Linked DNA regions of Homo sapiens: regions 1, 2 and 4 are each linked to region 3. The links come from fine-mapping of genetic effects on gene expression. A gene starts in region 3. Each other region holds a variant in brackets. All regions are shown on one strand. Distances are from middle to middle. Region 1 overlaps UBR1 (ubiquitin protein ligase E3 component n-recognin 1). Region 2 overlaps STARD9 (StAR related lipid transfer domain containing 9). Region 3 holds the start of UBR1 (ubiquitin protein ligase E3 component n-recognin 1). Region 4 overlaps UBR1 (ubiquitin protein ligase E3 component n-recognin 1).

Evidence for each region. PIP is the estimated chance that this variant, and not a neighbour inherited with it, causes the effect.
Region 1: its variant is the best candidate, but not a certain one, in a credible set for the expression of UBR1 in whole blood (INTERVAL, PIP 0.58).
Region 2: its variant is the best candidate, but not a certain one, in a credible set for the expression of UBR1 in monocytes after LPS (Fairfax 2014, PIP 0.81).
Region 4: its variant is the best candidate, but not a certain one, in a credible set for the expression of UBR1 in whole blood (TOPMed, PIP 0.71).

The regions. Positions count from the first base shown.
Region 1 is chr15:43,002,718-43,007,598 of GRCh38, forward strand. It overlaps UBR1 (ubiquitin protein ligase E3 component n-recognin 1), which reads right to left. Exons shown (of 47, transcript NM_174916.3): 30 at 4,362-4,567; 31 at 1,120-1,213. Among named protein-coding and RNA genes, the nearest start is that of TTBK2, 84 kb to the left of the region's middle. The variant C/T (reference allele first, on the strand shown) is at 1,994.
Region 2 is chr15:42,622,206-42,627,086 of GRCh38, forward strand. All of the region lies in intron 3 of STARD9 (StAR related lipid transfer domain containing 9), which reads left to right. Among named protein-coding and RNA genes, the nearest start is that of STARD9, 49 kb to the left of the region's middle. The variant G/A (reference allele first, on the strand shown) is at 2,984.
Region 3 is chr15:43,103,853-43,108,733 of GRCh38, forward strand. UBR1 (ubiquitin protein ligase E3 component n-recognin 1) reads right to left here and starts at 2,186. Exons shown (of 47, transcript NM_174916.3): 1 at 2,090-2,186. The coding sequence starts at 2,170. RefSeq lists an enhancer at 2,005-2,284.
Region 4 is chr15:42,942,737-42,947,617 of GRCh38, forward strand. It overlaps UBR1 (ubiquitin protein ligase E3 component n-recognin 1), which reads right to left. Exons shown (of 47, transcript NM_174916.3): 47 at 161-2,734. The coding sequence ends at 2,593. Among named protein-coding and RNA genes, the nearest start is that of TTBK2, 24 kb to the left of the region's middle. The variant C/T (reference allele first, on the strand shown) is at 2,480.

The DNA.
Region 1 (4,881 bases), 100 kb before region 3:
AAGACACAGGCCCATTCAGAACTACACATGCATCTCTACATGTGTATCTCTACTTGCTCTAATCCAAGTTTTAAAAATCTGGAATTTTTGCCCCAATAAACATCTTTAGAACATACATGCAAAAACACACAAGTTGTAATTATAGAAGAAACAGGTTGCCCATTATTTTGGGGACAAATTGGAAAATACATCAGAGCAGATATAAATTTAAAATAAGTTTATTGAATCATAACTCATCTCTTGCCTCAACAGCATGGTGATACAGCATGGACACTACTTTCCTCAGTTTCTAATGATGAACTGAAGTAGTGAGGGCTATCATGGAAAAATTATATATTGTAATCTAAAGCCAAATGGGTAAACTCTACACAAAAGATTTCTCAGGAATTACATTTTTGAAATTTTATATTTTCCAGAGATAGAACGAGAACTTCTTGTCCTATTCATCCTATTCTATTTCAAAGGTACTTTTCACAGCTGTATGTTTTGACAGAAATTAGATTTTTATAAAGATTACTTTTTTATTATTTATTTGTTGTGTTTATTAATTTTTTTGAGACGATGTTTCGCTCTTGTCTCCCAAGCTGGAGTGCAATGGCGCAATCTTGGCTCACTGGAACCTCTGCCTCCTGGGTTCAAGCGATTCTCCTGCCTCAGCCTCCGGAGGAGCTGGGATTAAAAGCATGTGCCACCACACTCAGCTAATTTTTGTATTTTTAGTAGAGACAGGGTTTTACCACGTTGGCCAGGCTGGTCTCAAACTCCTGACCTCAGGTGATCCTCCTGCCTCGGCCTCCCGAAGTGCTGAGATTACAGGTGTGAGCCACCACGCCCGGCCAATTATTACTTTTTTTACATGAATACTGATGAAGAGCAACTGATTAGTTTATGGAGAGCAAGCACAAAGGAACAGTGAAAATCTAAAGTTGGTAACTTTACACACCACTTTCCAACTTTGATAATAATAATTCATGCAAACAGAATTAGTAATTAAAACTGTTTCAATTATTCAAATAAGAAGAAAGGAAAGAAGACATGAGAAAACATGCCTTTTTGTGGCCTTGAGTGAACTTCAATGTTCCTAGTCTCTTTCAAGAACATGTCAGAAGGACAACTTACTTCTGCCAGCACACTGCGTGCATTACATGACCACAGCTTCCTGTATAAGTTCCATATGCCAAGTCTGGATCCATGAAAAGTGGGTCTAGGGCTTCTGGTACAAGGTATAAAAAGGAGGGAAAAAGAGAGACAGGTTATCAGGTCCAAAGTCTAATCACAAACTGTCTTAGGAATGTCCAAGCAAAGTGTCACAATATCATGATAGGAGGATATATAGTAACAAAAAGAGAAAAGTAATAGTAACAAAAGAGAAAAGCATAAAGGTAGCCTGTCAGATATGATTCTAAAATTAGTATGGATTAATAACTCTATCTTTGATTTACTTTTTAACCTTGAATATTGGGTTTAATCTGCATTATCTTGGTTATTTAAGTGATCTTCTATGTTTCCAAGATAATTTACTTTTTTAATTTTAATAGTAATTTGATAAATAATAATTTTAAGGGATACTTAGGGGAATTATAACCTCATTAAGAAAAGCACAGATTGGATCTCCCTCTTCCTCTCTCTCTCCCTCCTCTCCTCTCCCTCCTCTCCCTCCTCTCCCTCTCCCTGTCCCCGGTCTCCCTCTGATGCCACCAAAGTTGTGAAAGCCGAGGCTGGACTGTACTGCCGCCATCTCGGCTCACTGCAACCTCCCTGCCTGATTCTCCTGCCTCAGCCTGCAGAGTGCCTGGGATTGCAGGCACACGCCGCCACGCCTGACTGGTTTTTGCATTTTTTTGGTGGAGACGGGGTTTCGCCCTGTTGGCCGGGCTGGTCTCCAGCTCCTGACCGCGAGTGATCTGCCTGCCTCAGCCTCCCGAGGTGCCGGGATTGCAGACGGAGTCTCGCTCACTCAGTGCTCAATGGTGCCCAGGCTGGAGTGCAGTGG[C/T]GTGATCTCGGCTCGCTACAACCCCCTCCTCCCAGCCGCCTGCCTTGGCCTCCCAAAGTGCCGAGATTGCAGCCTCTGCCCAGCCGCCACCCCGTCTGGGAAGTGAGGAGCGGCTCTGCCTGGCCGCCCATCGTCTGGGATGTGAGGAGCCCCTCTGCCCAGCCGCCCAGTCTGGGAAGTGAGGAGCACCTCTTCCCAGCCGCCATCCCGTCTAGGAAGTGAGGAGTGTCTCTGCCCGGCACCCATCGTCTGAGATGTGGGGAGCACCTCTGCCACGCCGCCCCATCTGGGATGTGAGGAGTGCTTCTGCCCAGCCGCGACCCCGTCTGGGAACTGAGGAGCGTCTCTGCCCGACCGCCACCCCATCTGGGATGTGAGGAGTGTCTCTGCCCAGCCGCCCCGTCTGAGAAGTGAGGAGCCCCTCCGCCCGGCAGCCACCCCATCTGGGAAGTGAAGAGCCCCTCCGCCCAGCAGCCGCCCCATCTGGGAAGTGAGGAGCATCTCCGCCCGGCAGCCGCCCGGTCCAGGAGGTGGGGGGGCAGCCTCTGCCCGGCCAGCTGCCCCTTCCGGGAGGGAGGTGGGGGGCAGCCCCCGCCCGGCAGCCGCCCCATCCGGGAGGTGGGGGGCAGCCCCCGCCTGGCCAGCCGCCCCATCCGGGAGGGAGGTGAGGGGCAGCCCCCGCCCGGCCAGCCGCCCTGTCTTGGAGGGAGGTGGGGGGCAGCCCCCGCCCGGCCAGCCACCCCATCTGGGAGGGAGGTGGGGGGGCAGCCCCTGCCCAGCCAGCCGCTCCGTCTGGGAGGTGGGGGGGCGCCTCTGTCCAGCCACCCCGTCTGGGAAGTGAGGAGCCCCTCTGCCCGGCCACCACCCCGTCTGGGAGGTGTACCCAACAGCTCATTGAGAACGGGCCATGATGACGATGGCGGTTTTGTGGAATAGAAAAGGGGGAAATGTGGGGAAATGAGAGAGATCAGATTGTTACTGTGTCTGTGTAGAAAGAAGTAGACATGGGAGACTCCATTTTGTTCTGTACTAAGAAAAATTCTTCTGCCTTGGGATGCTGTTAATCTATAACCTTACCCCCAACCCCGTGCTCTCTGAAACATGTGCTGTGTCCACTCAGGGTTAAATGGATTAAGGGCGGGGCAAGATGTGCTTTGTTAAACAGATGCTTGAAGGCAGCATGCTCGTTAAGAGTCATCACCACTCCCTAATCTCAAGTACCCAGGGACACAAACACTGCGGAAGGCCGCAGGGTCCTCTGCCTAGGAAAACCAGAGACCCTTGTTCACATGTTTATCTGCTGACCTTCCCTCCACTATTGTCCTATGACCCTGCCAAATCCCCCTCTCGGAGAAACACCCAAGAATGATCAATAAATACTAAAAAAAAAAAAAAGAAAAAAAAAAAAAGAAAAGAAAAGCACAGATTGAGGATTTCAAATTCTGGTTTCATCACTTGTAACTCATGGCCATGGGTAAGTTACTTGACCTCTCTGTGCCTCAGGTCCTTCATCTATAAAATGGAACTAATAGTGATAACTAACTCATAGGGCTGTTGTGAGGATTAAGTAAGTAAATACACATAAAGCACTTAACAAGTGCCTGGCAATGTTAAGTTTTCAATAAATGCTAGTCTTTATTATCACTATTATTCCAAGGAGCTTGTTTTGTTTGTTTTGAGACAGGGTCTCACCCTGTTGTGGACCACAGGCTCATGCAACCATGCCTGGCTAATATGTTTGTAAAGACGAGGTTTCGCCATGTTGCCTAGGCTGGTCTCAAACTCCTGAGCTCAAGTGATCCACCCACACCGGCTTCCCAAAGTGCTGGGATTACAGGCGTGAGCCACCATGTCTGGCCTATTCCAAGGATATTTTAAAATAATAATGATGCTAAAGCAGCTAATTCCTGATGTAATAAGTGCAATAAATTATCTAATTAGCATTCCTGCCAAGAAAATGTTTAACATGATTCTAATCAGGAGGCAACTTAACAATCAGATAAATTCAGAATGTGACACATTATACAAAGCAAGTGGCCTGAATTCTTCAAAAAAGCTACTATCATAAAAAAAGGAGGGACTAATCTGGATTAAAATAGAGTAAAGGAAATATAGCCAAAGCAACACGTGTTTGTTTGGATCCTAAGTGAAAAAAAAAGTCTAGGAATTGAAGACATTTTGAGAACTGTTGGAGAAAAATTGATTTTATATTAGATAATATTCCTGGATTATTATTACTTTCTTAAATATGATAATGGTATGGTAGATATATAACCCTTATTTCCAAATGTTTTTCAAATAGTATTTTCTTTAATTACACAGGCATGAAAAGAAATGCACAAAAGGATATTTATTAAATAATACATACCTCCTGAGAGTTCTATGGGTTTTCCCCTGTGCTGGGTTAAGGCAGTAGATTTCTGGACACAGGCCGATAATACCATGGCATTATTTTCTATTTTCACCTCCTGTTCTTCTTGGCAAAGGATGCACGTCAGCACCTCCTTTTCAGTAACAGATGGACCCCGTTTAGGACCCAAAGCAATTCTAGAGTAGTCACTGACTGCTGGGGTGCTACCAAAAGAAATGATCAGAAATGAGGACACATGTTTTGGTCACTTGTCTTCATATTTTGGTAGATTTTAAGTAACTATAGGCAAGAAATATAAGAAAGATAATAAAAATAAAAATGATATTTAGCAATATTAAGTTAAAAGCTTCCCCCTTTCCTTTGTGGCTTTTATCAGTTATTTGCTTATTACAAAATACAAGTGTTGCTAAGTGCAAAAAACAGATGATAAAATGGAATGTATATTATAATTTTACTTAATTTACTATACCAATAAGCTGGGCTTTTTTTTTTTTCTGGATATAAAAGTAATACAGGC
Region 2 (4,881 bases), 480 kb before region 3:
AAAGCTGTAGTGGGCTGTGATTGTACCACTGCACTCCAGCCTGGGAGACAGAGTGAGACCCTTAAAAACAAAAAACAAAGAAAAAGAATAATGAAAAATGAAAGCCAAGTTTCTCATTATCACCTGTAGCTCGCTCTCTCTCTCCCTCTCTCTCTCTCTCTCTGTCTCTCTCTTTTTTTAGAGACAGGGTCTCACTTTGTTGCTTACCCTGGAGCGCAGCTGCATGATCATAGCTGATTGCAACCTTGAACTCCTGGGCTCAAGTGATCCTCCCACCTCCGACTCTTGATTAGCTGGGACTTCAGGCATGAGCCACTGCCCAGCGGATGTCTCTCCGTTTTGGATCCATACTTCCTTGTTCAAATAAAACTAACTTGAAGGAAGGGGTGGGGCAGAGAGATTTGTTTGACTGTCTCTGTGGTTACTTGCCTGGGTATCTGTTGTTCCTGAGGTGGGAGATCTTTAGTTGTAACTATGAACTTTCCAAGGTTGACAGTGAGGTATTAAGAGATGACAAATGGAAGTACAAAGATTTTTCAGAGGGAGTCATGTGACATGGTTGTTCTCCTGTTTTGTCCAGAGCTCTGATGTTCTGAAGGATTGAAATGAAAAGGATACATTTTATATTTTATGGTGATACAGTCCTGGGGTCAACCTCACTGAAGAGAGGCCTTTATCTGGGGACATTATGTGGGGCTTCAAGGTAGGGACCTCTCTCAAAGTGTGCTTTGAAATAAGTAAGTATAGCTTAAGATGCAGATCAGGGCCAGGCGTGGTAGCTCACGCCTGTAATCCCAGCACTTTGGGAGGCGGAAGCAGGCAGATCACCTGAGGTCGGGAGTTTGAAACCAGCCAGACCAACATGGAGAATCCCCACCTCTACTAAAAATACAAAAATTAGCTGGGTGTGGTGGTGCATGCCTGTAATCCCAGCTACCTGGGAGGCTGAGGCAGGAGAATTGCTTGAACCTGGGAGGCGGAGGTTGCAGTGAGCTGAGATTGTGCCATTGCACTCCAGCCTGGGCAACAAGAGCGAAACTCTGTCTCAAAAAAAAAAAGATGCCGATCAAATGCCAACACTGCTATGAATATTTCCCTCACTACCTCAGGCCACAGTCATTTTCCTTTCTCCAAATATAATATTTATGTCTCCTCTTTATTCATATTCTACTATGTACTGGTATTGAACTGTTTACTGACTCTATGGTCTATCTCTCCAACTATATGATAAGTTTGTTGTGGACTGAAGACAGTGTTTGAAAGGTTTTTCAAACCTCTCTCAGTGTCCTGTGTGGTGCTGGGTTCCTGTTAGGAACTCAATAAATACTTTCTTCCAAGATTAAGAGAATTCTAGTTCTGGGACTTGGATGGTTCAAGACTCATTTCTTTCAAAATAATGACTCTTCTTTCTTTCCGTTGGGTATGGCATAGATTTCATTTGGCTTTGTTCGTGTTTACCTTCATTTCAAAATTTCTGTTGTAGTCTCTCCCTTCTCTTGTTCTTTGGGAACTGTTTAAATACCAATTTCCATGGTATGCATTGCATGGATAAATGTAAAATGTGGACGAACATGGGAAATAAATCTCTGTATTTCACAGCATAAAATGGAGAAGGCAAATAGGAAATCTAGACTCATTTGTCAAAGTTACATATAGGCTGTTGCCTGGAAAAATCTGCAATTTATCAGGGATAGTATCTGGTCCACACTTGGGCCAGGGCCCAAATTATGTCAGTTAACTTCTAGCTAGGCTTACAATGGGAATAGATGCATCTATAAACATTTATATTGGGTAGAGACCCAAAGATGAATGGCCTGTAGTGGGATTGAAGGAACAGCCCAGAATTTACCTGACATTTATGAAGTGTGGACAGTATTTCCTGAAACTGTGGGTTTATGTTTGCAAAGCTGGCACAGATGACACTTTCCCTTGTTAGACTGTTCACACTTTGGGTAAGCTACTGCCAAGTGGACAGTGGCTTATGTAAGGCTTGGATGCCTTGTGAGTGGAGCTATAGTATGCTTTCCCATGCTATATACATTGGGAAATTAAATAGAAAATTTTAATTACTAATTAAAATGAAAAATATTAAGTTGTCTAAGCATAAACAGAAAAACACTATTTATGTCTATAATATAACAAAACAAGGTTCAGCTTAGTATCCTCATTATATTTAGGTATTCTTAATTACTGTATTTACATCAGAATTTAAGATCTTGAAGGAACATTAGATATATTATCTAGAAATAAAACAAAAGTCTGAAAGAGTAATTTCACCACCAAAATGTTAAGAATGTATTATCTCTGAATAGTGGGATCATTTTTGTTTATCACCATTTTCTGTTGTCTTTTTTTTTTTTTGAGACAGAGTCTCCCTCTGTCATCCAGGCTGGAGTGCAGTGACGCAATCTTGGCTCGCTGCAACCTCCGCCTCCCAGGTTCAAGTGATTCTTCTGCCCAAGCCTCCCAAGTAGCTGGGACTACAGGCATGCGCCACCACGCCCAGCTAATTTTTGTATTTTTCATATAGACAGGGTTTCGCCATGTTGGCCAGACTGGTCTCGAACTCCTGACCTCAGGTGATTCACCTGCCCTGGCCTCCCTAAGTTCTGGGTTTACAGGCATGAGAGAATAATTTTCATAGTGAATACACAAATACTGACTTGTCAATAAAGATGTTATCTGTTACTGCATTTAGTAGCAATTTTTCTAAAAAGGAATAAAGTTTTCTAATATAATTCTTTTATTTTAACAATGGAGTTACAGACCCATAGAGATAAGTAATATTTAAAATTCATTTAAACAGAATACATCATAGACATTTAAAGCTATTTTCTTTTTGATACAGTCTCATTCTGTCACCCAGGCTGGAGTATGGTGGCACAGTCTTGGCCCACTGCAACCTCTGCCTCCCAGGTTCAAACGATTCTCCTGCCTCAGCCTCCCAAGTAGCTGGGATTACAGATGTGTACCACCACACCCG[G/A]CTAATTTTTGTATTTTTAGTAGAGATGGGGTTTCACCATGTTGGCCAGGCTAGTCTCATATTTCTGATCTCAAGTGGTCCACCCACCTCAGCCCCCCAAAGTGCTGGGATTACAGGCATGAGCCACCACCCCCAGCCTTAAAGCTATTTTCTGTTTTTGGAGACAGAGTCTGACTCTGTCGCCCAGACTAGAGTGCAGTGGCGCGATCTCGGCTCACTGCAACCTCTGCCTCCCGGGCTCAAGCAGTTCTCTTGTCTCAGCCTTCCAAGTAGCTGGGATTACAGACACACGCCACCACTCCCGGCTAATTTTTATATTTTAGTAGAGATGGGGTTTCACCATGTTGGCCAGGCTGGTCTCGAACTCCTGACCTCAGGTGATCCACCCACCTTGGCCTCCCAAAGTGCTGGGTTTACAGGCATGAGCCACCATGCCTGGCTGCTATTTTCTTCTTCCTATTTTTTTTTTTTTTTAGGTAGATTAAGAAAAACTAATGAAGAACTTCTTTTCTGTGTGAAAATTTTAGTTTTTAATAGCAATTTCAGTTTGTAATAGACATGCATGAAACTTTTCTGTGGGAAGGTATTAAGGGCTGAGTACTACATGTATTTTGTTGAATAACTAACCTCTCTCTCAGTGGAATGATTTTCGTATTTATAAAAGAAAAAGAATGACCCCTAAGCCCTAACAAAACCTTCAAGACATGAAGAAAGAGTTATTATTATTATTATTTTATTTATTTATCTTTTTGAGACAGAGTCTAGTTCTGTCGCCCAGGCTGGAGCACAGTGGTGCGATATCGGCTCACTGCAGCCTCTGCCTCCTAAGTTCGAGTTATTCTCCTGCCTCAGCTTCCCAAGTAACTGGCATTACAGGCACCTGCCACCACGCCTGGCTAATTGTTGTATTTTTTAGTAGAGACAGGGTTTCACCATGTTGGCCAGGCTGGTCTCAGAACTCCTGACCTCAGGTGATCTGCCTGCCTCGGCCTCCCAAAGTGCTGGGATTACAGGCATGAGCCACCACACCTGGCAAGAGTTTTAATTCTTCTTCTTCTTCTTCCTCTTCCTCTTCCTCTTCCTCCTCCTCTTCCTCCTCTTCCTCTTCCTCCCCTTCTTCCTCTTCCTCTTCTTCCTCCTCTTCCTCTTCTTCCTCTTCCTCTTCTTCCTCTTCCTCTTCTTCCTCCTCTTCCTCCTCTTCCTCTTCCTCCTCCTCTTCTTCCTCCTCCTCCTCCTCTTCTTCTTCTTCCTTCTCCTCCTCCTCTTCCTTCTCCTCTTCCTCCTCTTCATCCTCTTCCTCTTCCTCTTCTTTTTTTTTTTTTGTGGCAGGGGAAAGAGTTTCATTCTTGTTGCCCAGGCTGGAGCGCAGTGGCGCGATTTCGGCTCACTGCAGCCTCCGCCTCCCGGGTTCTAATGATTCTCTTGTCTCAGCCTCCTGAGTAGCTGGGATTACAGGCATGCGCCACCACGCTCAGCTAATTTTGTATTTTTTTTTTTTTTTTTAGTAGAGACGGGGTTTCACCGTGTTGGTCAGGCTGGTCTCGAACTCCTGACCCCAGGTGATCCACCCACCTCGGCCTCCCAAAGTGCTGAGATTACAGGTGTGAGCCACCGCGCCTGGCCATCTTTAATTTAATGGTTTATGTGAGGGTTTTTGATATCAGTTTTTTTTTTTCAAGACAGCGTCTCTCTCTGTCACCCCAGGTAGATGGAGTGCAGTGGTGTGATGTCGGCTCACTGCAACTTCTACCTCCGCGGCTAAAGCGATCCTTCAACTTCAGCCTCCCAAGTAGCTGAGGCCTCTCAGCCTCCCAAAGTGCTGGTATTACAAGTGTGTACCACCGTGCTTGGCCAATTGTTTTCTGGGAGGCCAAGGTGGGTGGATCGCTTTGAGTCCA
Region 3 (4,881 bases):
AAAGTAGTAAACTTGGAAGCCAGTGTCATACCATGGCTAGAATAAAATTAAAAACAGTAATAGCTTTTAAAAGAGAAAAAGAGAAAGAGAGAGGTAGAATGATCTGTAGGGTCTTCAGTAGACAGAGAGATCCAAGCCAAAAAAGGGGTTATAAAGCTTAACAGTCACAGGACTTCATTTACTGACATTACTCTACCTTGAATTAAAATTATTTGGGCCCTTATATTACCTGTGTCACCAGACTGTGAGTTCCTTGAGGCTATATTACACAATCTACCTACTACTTTGCAAAACCCAAAGCCCTGCCCAACAAAATCTAATAATATTTCCTGAGGTAAAGAGTTGCCACATAAATTCTAGCTCAATTCCTGTATCATTATCTCCAATTCCAAATTAGTGACGTCCAGAATGATGGGGTTTTATTGTATTATCTGGAAAAAATTAATGTATCAAAGCTTTAAATAAATATTAGTCTTCAGATACAAAACTATAACAATTCTTCTGACCACAGCAGTTTCCCCACTCCTTCTAACAAGCAAAACTCACAAACTACCATTAAAATGTTTCAGTTGCTTTTAAATTTGTCCTACCTCCTCATTCCTTATCATCTCAAATAAGATGCTTCCTCCTTCAGGAACAGTAGTGAAGTGAATTTGAACTGCTATTTGGGGTGGAGGAAAACGGCAAGCACTGACATAGTCAGTGGCCAAATCCTTTTTCCAACTCCCTCCCTACCTTGTTCCTACCTCCTAGACAGTCTCTTCAGTCCCTGGAGTTGACTCATGCCGTAGCTCCCTCTGTAGTTCCCTCTGTTCTCGCATAAAACAATGTTCAATTGTATGCAGGGTTAAAAAAAAAAACAAAAAACCTTCAAGAATGCTTTTAATCTGTAATCCCAGCACTTTGGGATGCCGAGGCAGGTGGATCACCTGAGGTCAGGAGTTCGAGATCAGCCTGGCCAACATGGTGAAACCCCGTCTCTAATAAAAATAAAAATAAAAAAAATTAGGCAAGCATGGTGGCAGGCACCTGTAATCCCAGCTACTCAAGAGGCTGAGGCAGGAGAATTCCTGAACTCGGGAATTTGCAGTTCAATTCCTGAACTCGGAAGGTTGCAGTGAGCCGAGATTACACCACTGCACTTCAGCCTGGGCAACAAGAGCAAAACTCTGCCTCAAAAAATAAATAAAATAAAATAATGTTTTTATTAAACTACAAGCCAAAGAAACTTCAGAAAAAATGTGTATATCCCAAATCTCTAAATGCTGCTATTTAGAAAGACAAACTAATAAAACATCATGCGGTGACAGATATTTGAATATTTTCTACATATCTCCACACTAGATGCCCTGGGCATCCAGAACATTCCCTAACATTGCCCCCTACTCTTATCTTCCTCGGCAGCTTTCTCCCTGTAGCTAGTGACTCAAATTTGTTCACTATCTGTGCCTTCCCATTCTTTCAAAATGCAAGAGCAAAGTATAGATTCCGACATCAATTAATGGTATTGCTCTGGCTTGAAATGTTTGGGAGTCCTTTCTTCACCTTTAAAAAGTAGCGACAGATGATGGGTTTCTCCACTGAGGGTTAGGCCTGGGGTTCCCAAGATGCTATACGCAAGGACAATTACTACACCTCACATCTAGACATGACTTGACAGTAGCAGCACTACCTACCAATATCAGGTCCCGGCCAGCAGGCTATGCAATAAAATACCAGGTGCTGCGTTCCCATCATCAAGAGTAAAGGGTTAGTACTGCTTCTATACGAAAATGGCTCTTGCTCCAACCCCGCCTCGGCCCCCACATCAAACCGTCTAATAACATCACTGGTTCTTTCTACTTCAGAATAGAGACATGCACACTTGAGATCATCAAGAATAATACATAACAAAGTCATTATATTCCGTAGACTTGGCTGGCAGAAATGTGGGTTGCGACTAACTTTTTATTCGGTGGCTTCCTTCCAGATCAATCCAGATAACTCCCCCTCCCCAGAGCCGCCATAAGGGGTGAAGCCCCACATCCTCCTAAGCGCAGTAGGGAGGGACCGGGGGGAGGACAAAAGAGACTTGCCTATAGGGACTTACAGATGCCAGACGCTGAGGGGTCTGGGGTAACTCCGCGCTGATTTCCATCCTCTCAGTACCTCCAGCCTCCTCGTCCGCCATCTTGAGGGAAACTGACGCCTGCAGTTGCCGACCCCCGGCCAGAGGCAAGCGGAAACCTGTGGCCGGTCGGAGAGACAGGGACGACACTTTTACGACGGCCCCTGAAGTCGGGTTTGACGCAGACTCGAGGAGTGGCTTCCGGCCCGCTTCCCGGAAGCAAGCGTCACGACGTGAAGGGACTGGAGATTTTTTTTTTCCCCTCTAATTTATCAGGCGTAGCTCTTGGTAGCTGAATGGTTGTATATCTGGGTTTGGTGCTGGGAACTGTTGCATCTACGAGGTAAAAAAAACAAAGTCAGCGTCCATTATGAAAGGAAGAAAACTTGTCGGGGGCTAAAGCAAGAACCTGTCCTAGCTGGCCGGTTGTTGGCCTGGGGATGTTTTGTATCCCAACCTCCCTGCAGTAGTTCCCCAGAGCCTACAAAATGAAAAAGAAAGTACTCACACATCTTCTATTTTTAGGATTCTACCCCGTGGGCACTTGCACATGTGTACAAAAAAAGCTCGGGATCCAGCTTTATTGGGGGACACGGGGGGAAATAACAAAAAATTGGAAACCTAGTCATTCATCGATAGAGGAAAGACAAGATATACTATGGTACATTCGCATTTTGAAATACTGTGCAGCTCTTGAGCAAGATAAATCTGCGTGAAAAGATCAAGATAAATTGAGAGAAAAAAAAGCCAAGTTGCTGCAAACTATATATTTGCACACATAGGCATTTAAATGTGAAGGAGTAAGTCTGAAAGGGGAAAGGGCAAAGTAGTAACTCTGAGGGCCAGGATTCGGATTGGAGGAAGAAGGTGGTCAAGAGCTACTTTACCTTCATTTGTATTTTAAATTTTTTACAAAACAAATAATTTTAAAGTATATTTTTAACAAAGGGAAGAAAATAAAGCTCCAAACAATGTGAAAAGTAGAGGAGGCTTTCCAAATGCTGTGGTCCACCTTGATTTATAGAACTTTCCTGCCTAAACAATGTTTCTGCTCAAATGAACTACTTCCTGGGTGCTAAAATACTGTTTTTCCAGCCTTTTTTGCCCAACAACCACAATAAATACATTTTACATCTTATCACGGTACACCTATACAAAATTAAATGGGTATATATAGAATATGTATATATATACTGAAACTTAAATTTTCTGAAACAATACTTCCAATATGTCATATTTTCTATTCAATTGCAATATGTTTATGCATTTAAGCCAAAATACTGGTTGTAGTTATTAAAGTGATACTATAACCCACAATAGGTATTGTCCCACATTTTGATAAAAATTGCCCTAAAAGTTACCTTGTCCCTTCCTGTCTCTATGCTTTTACTTCTGTAGTTCTCTTATGCTACCCCACGCTCTTCTCTTTTTCTTCTTTCATTCCTAGATAAATGAAATAGACTAGAACGTTCAGAAATAGGTCGGGGCAGTGGCTCACGCCTGTAATCCCAGCACTTTGGGAGGCCAAGGTGAGTGGATCACCTGAGGTCAGGAGTTCGAGACCAGCCTGGACAACACAGTGAAACCCCATGTCTATTAAAGATACAAAAATTAGCTGGGTGTGGTGGCAGGTGCCTGTAATCCCAGCTACTCAGGAGGCTGAGGCAGGAAAATTGCTTGAACCCAGGAGGTAGAGTTTGCAGTGAGCCAAGATCATGCCACTGGCACTCCAGCCTGGGCTACAAGAGCAAAACTCTGTCTCAAAAAAAAAAAAAAAGAAAAAGAAAAAACAGAAAATAAAAAGAAATAATAGCCACTTATCAACATCTTAATGTAATCAAAGCACTAGTATATTAATAACACTAGCTATATATTAATAACAATCCTTTAGGTAGATGTTACTACTTCTATTTTACTGTCATGAGAAACTGAGAAAACTGAAGTTTAGAGAAGTTACATAATTTGGTTAGGGACATGCAGCTTCCAAGTGACACAGCAGATATTCAGCCAGCACAATGGCTCACCCCTGTAATGTTAGCACTTTGGGAGGCCAAGGCGGGAGGATTACTTGAGCCCAGGAGTTTGAGATGGGCAACATAGCAAGACTCCCACCTCTACCAAAAAATAATAATAAATAAAATCCAGTTCAAATGACTCACAAGGCCCTATTCTTATCCATTTCACTTTATTACTTTATACCAAATTCAAGTATTTTACACATGAAAGATAACAGCATTTCAAGTGAGAAGGAAATTATGAACTGCTTATTTATTTATTTTTTCAGATGGAGTTTCGCTCTTGTTACCCAGGCTGGAGTGCAGTGGCGTGATCTCAGCTCACCACAACCTCCGCCTCCCGGGTTCAAGCAATTCCCCTGCTTCAGCCTCCCAAGTAGCTGGGATTACAGGCATGCACCACAATGCCTGGCTAATTTTGTATTTTTAGTAGACACGATGTCTCTCCATGTTGGTCAGGCTGGTCTCAAACTCCCGACCTCAGGTAATCCGCCCGCCTCGGCCTCCCAAAGTGCTGGGATTATAGGTGTGAGCCACCACGCCCAGCCGGACTGTTTATTAAGTGGTGCAAAAACAGATGGTTATGTAGCAGTTCCTCAAAAAACAAAATTAGACATAGAATTCCCATGTGATCCAGCAATTCCACTTCTGGGTATATATCCAAAAGAAGTGAAAGCAGGGTCTTGAACAGATGTTTGTATACCTGTGTTCATTGAAGCATTATTCAGTATAGTCAAATGGTGGCAGGAACCCAAGTGT
Region 4 (4,881 bases), 160 kb before region 3:
TATTGATGGAGTATATGGCTAAAAAGTTTGGAGACCCATGTATACTAAACACCTATGTCTTTTAAAACATTTGCCTCGGCTGACAAAGGTTTCAACTGGAGAGTCTTCCTAGCAGATTTTTATACTTCAAACCCAAATCCCCAAACATGAGAAGTCCCTATTTTTCTTTTTAAATATACACATATATTTTATTTTAAAAAGCACAAGAACATTATACAAGTTTTAAATTTACATTTTTGCAATAAAAGTTATCAATATATGCATTATTTGTATAACTTCATCATGGATGGAATTTGAATCAGTGGTATAAACATGTTGCAGTCACTAAATATAGATCATCATCACAGTGAACCAAAATGCATAGTTGTTATGAAATGACAAATGACCACTAAAAGGTGAACTCACAGCCCATACACCAATATAATAAATTAATTATACAGATATATTTTTCTTCACCATATCATTAAAATTCTCACTAGCCCCTTACCAAACATTAGAAAAACACAGTTCTGGAGCCATCCTGTTGAACCAGTGCCTTCACATACTACACTAAAGAAAATAAAGTGACTCAGTTGCTTGTTTGTAAGTAAACTTCATAAGCATAATTGTTTGCAATGATTAAGGTAAATCACTAGGACATTTGAACATAATGAGAAATCCCTGGGGCTTGGGGCAGCACTGAGACATACGCTCATCTACAGTGCAAAAATCTGAATCAATCTCAATCAGTGGAACGCAATATGAAATGGGTTCTTTGGCAGTAAAGGTCTGGCTGGCCATTGCCAGACAGTCCCTCTGTCCTCTTGAGAGCCTAACTCCAGAATTTATTAAGTTAATATAAAAAGGACTAAAAATAAAGTCAGTTTATCTTTGCTAAATTGGGGCCCATCTATTAGGGTAGAAGTCAGTATCTTCTGTTTCCTATTCTAGCCCAGATTTCCCAGTCAAACAATCCACTCAATACAATTATATAAGAAACAAACACACATGTTCAAATACTTTCATCATTCTGGCAAATCTGACAAACTGAATACTGAATTTCCTGATCCTTACCTGTTATTGTTACAAATTGTTCACTAGACATGTATCTATTTATCCAGATACCTTCTGAATTGTAATTATTCAAGTAGAAAATCATGATTGTGATTCTGACGCCTGCTCATGCCAATCCCTTACTGCAAAATCCACTTTTCTTTACATAAAAGTACCAAAAAAATCTAGCCCCAAATGTGCATCACTAATCACTTAGCAAATATATTTTACTTGCTTGCCTTTGCTGAGCAAAAAGAAGGTAGGAAAACATTTACACACATATGTGAGACACTAATAGCCAAGGGCAAAATAAGATACAGTCTTTGAATGCATCTTTCAAGGTTCTAACATTACCCCAGAAACAACGTAAGTTAAAATGGAAGGTTTCCATTTATCTTCTGCTGTTTTATATCACAATCTCTTGATACAAAAAACAAAAGCCAGGAACCAAGAAGTCTATGCACAAATTCAGGAGAGCTCTATTATTTATAAACAAGATGGCTCAACCACAGCATGTTATAACAGGACACAGACTATTGATCACATGGCTTTTTTGGTGGTTTGTACTAGTCATAAAACCAGAGTTTATGAAAAGGTTGCACACAGACAACATCAAGGATTTGTCTTTTACAAAGATATAGAAGACTGCGGAATTGGTTTAAATCTGATTGTTCTAATTTACAGTTGTCATGATCCACTCATTGCGAGAATTTTCTCATCTTCATTCTACAGTTTTTACATCAGAATTACAAGAGGTTTCTGAGAGTCAAACAGGATGGTGCCACAATCTCCTTGCAGAATGAGATTTGCCTTTGGAAAATGTCAAGTATTATTTCAAAACTCAACAAAGCTACTGGTAGTCAGAGGTGAGAACTGCAAGCTCTTTGTACCGTCAGGAATGAATAACAAATACATTACCCTAACTTTTCTTGAGGCCTACAGTGAGAAAAAAGCTTTTCCATATTGGCAGAAATCATCCTCTGTCCACATAGAGATTGAGTTTAATTTGTGGTGATAGCAGCAGGTGGCACATTAGGGGTATTTCCTTAAAAGAGAAATAATAAAAAATTTATTTTTGGAATCTTTCCCAAGTATATTGCATGGTTTCTGCAATTCTTCTTTAACTGCAAGGAAGACTATCACAGATTATTAGAATTTTGTCAGTGATCCAATGTCAGTTGAACTAAACTTGGGGGGAAAACACCAAATACAAAATTGCAGAAGAGTTAACCAACATATAAAATGTCTACAACTGTTTGACGTGACTTCATCTACCAAGTGGATGAAATAAAATGAAATGAGACAAATTATGAAGGGGAATAAATTCCTGGAAATACTAGCACATAAAACAGATTGATCTATGTCCTTTTTTCCTGTGAAGCATATGTTTGCTAATTGAAAGCAATACTCCATTAAGAAATATTTTATTGATGTAAGTGAACCTGGA[C/T]ATGGAGCAAAAGACCCTCCAATACTTTCCCAGCCCTCAGAAAGTTTTCCATAATTTTGAATCAGCCTTTACTACTGTCGTCATTTGTGATTGTCTTGAGGCAGAGTTGGAGCTCACAGTAACTGCCAGTTGAATCCAAATAACATCTGATTAGTCTCTTGGCTCCTAGCAATCTCTTCTATAATGCAGTGTTGTTGCCAGACCAAATGGAGCTTCCGATACCGCTCACGAGATAAATGAAGGGGGTTGCCCCTCCTTTAGGGAAAAAAGAAAAAACAACATGTAAGTTTGAATCTAGTAACTGCCACATCTTTATTGTCTAAATTAGTATGCACTCTTGAGATGTTCCTGGAGCCGGGAGGACTCACCAGCACAGGGCTTAAAAAGGGATATTTTCCCTTCACCATTGATCACTAAGAACTTGACAGGCTACTTAGCTAATAAAGCAGAAATGTACTCCTTGACCATTCATAAAATAGGTCAGGTATATTATGGCATTATGGGACCTCACTTAAATGGTCACTGAGGTTTATAACTTGAAGCAGCACTATTCTTTTTTGGTGGTTAGCTTGAATAGCTTTTTGGCTTCATATTGTTATCTAGCTTCAATTTATGATCTTTGCACAGTAGAGGTTAGGCCTGACGTATAACACTAGGCCCTAAAATTATATTTTGCTACTCAGAGATATTTGGTTGTAACTGTCCTTACGATACAAAAAACTGGCTGGTTATTAGCAAATAATTTAATAAAATAATTATACTTCAATTCTAGAGTTGCACAGTTTTTAACACTGTATAACAGCTAATCCAAAATGACTTAAGTCTGGCTGTTGCCAGTAACGGAGAACTGTGAGATCCTAATTCCTTGAGACATTCAAGTCTCTCAGCTGGTTGGGGATTTTTTTTGTTTTTGTTTTTGTTTTTTGGAGATGGAGTTTCGCTCTTTTTGCCCAGGCTGGAGTGCCGTGGTACGATCACGGCTCAGGGCAACCTCTGCCTTCCAGTTTCAAGCAATTCTCCTGCCTCAGCCTCCAGAGTAGCTGGGATTACAGGTGCCCGCCACGATACCTGGCTAATTGTTTTTGTATTTTTAGTAGAGACGGGGTTTCACAATGTTGGCCAGGCTAGTCTCGAACTCCTGACCTCGTGATCCGCCCGCCTCGGCCTCCCAAAGTGCTGGGATTACAGGCGTGAACCACCGCGGCCGCCTGGTTGGGGATTTTTAAACTGCCAAATTAATGTTAAAACTCTGCTTTGTACCCTTGTGGAACAACTAAGATTCTCAGTCATTAACTACTTTCACCACTCTGCTTTTCTCCCTAAACCTAAAGACAGGTCAAATGTCATCCCAATAAAAAGAAAGCTCTGTGTGATCCAAGGTCCCAAGCCCCATCTAATAAGTGTATTCTTTCTGAGCAATATTTCAAAGGAACAAAATTTCAGTGAACCAAAAAGAGTTTATTGTAAGGAGGTCTAATCTTTATCTATATGTACTTTTGAGATCACTGTCAGTCTCCTCATTTTCATAAGTCATCAGTAGGACCCCAGTTCCTACCACCAGGGAAGGATACAGAAAAGTTCAGGATTCTAAATATTTTGTTAATGCTCAGAAGGAAAGAAGGCTGATATAGCTGGCTAATAAAAAGTCTCAGTTGGGTGCAGTGGCTCATGCCTGTAATCCCAGCACTTTGGGAGTCCAAGGTGGGCAGATCAACTGAGGTCAGGAGTTCGAGACCAGTCTGGCCAACACAGTAAAACCCCGTCACTACTAAAAATACAAAAAAAATTAGCCGGGTGTGGTGGTGCATGTCTGTAGTCCCAGCTACTTGGGAGGCTGAGGCAGGAGAATCGCTTGAACCCTGGAGGTAGACGTTGCAGTGAGCCGAGATCCAGCCTGGGTGACAGAGTGAGAGACTGTCTCAAAAAACAAAGAAAAAAAAAGTTTCAAGTATTGCAATGGAAACAATATCTCTAAAACAAACTTCATCACTGGACACTACAAACTTATACTATCAGTGTCAATCCTTTTAAGTAGTTCTGAAGAAAGGTTGATTACAAACAATAGAACACTGAAACATTAAGATGGCTGGTGTCTTTAAAAATTTTGGGGAAACACTACCTTCAAATTTTGGAGAAGTTGTTGAAAATTATGTGCTACAAGACAGGGATGCCCTCTCTCACCACTCCTATTCAACATAGTGTTGGAAGTTCTGGCCAGGGCAATTAGGCAGGAGAAGGAAATAAAGGGTATTCAATTAGGAAAAGAGGAAGTCAAATTGTCCCTGTTTGCAGATGACATGATTGTATATCTAGAAAACCCCATTGTCTCAGCCCAAAATCTCCTTAAGCTGATAAGCAACTTCAGCAAAGTCTCAGGATACAAAATCAATGTACAAAAATCA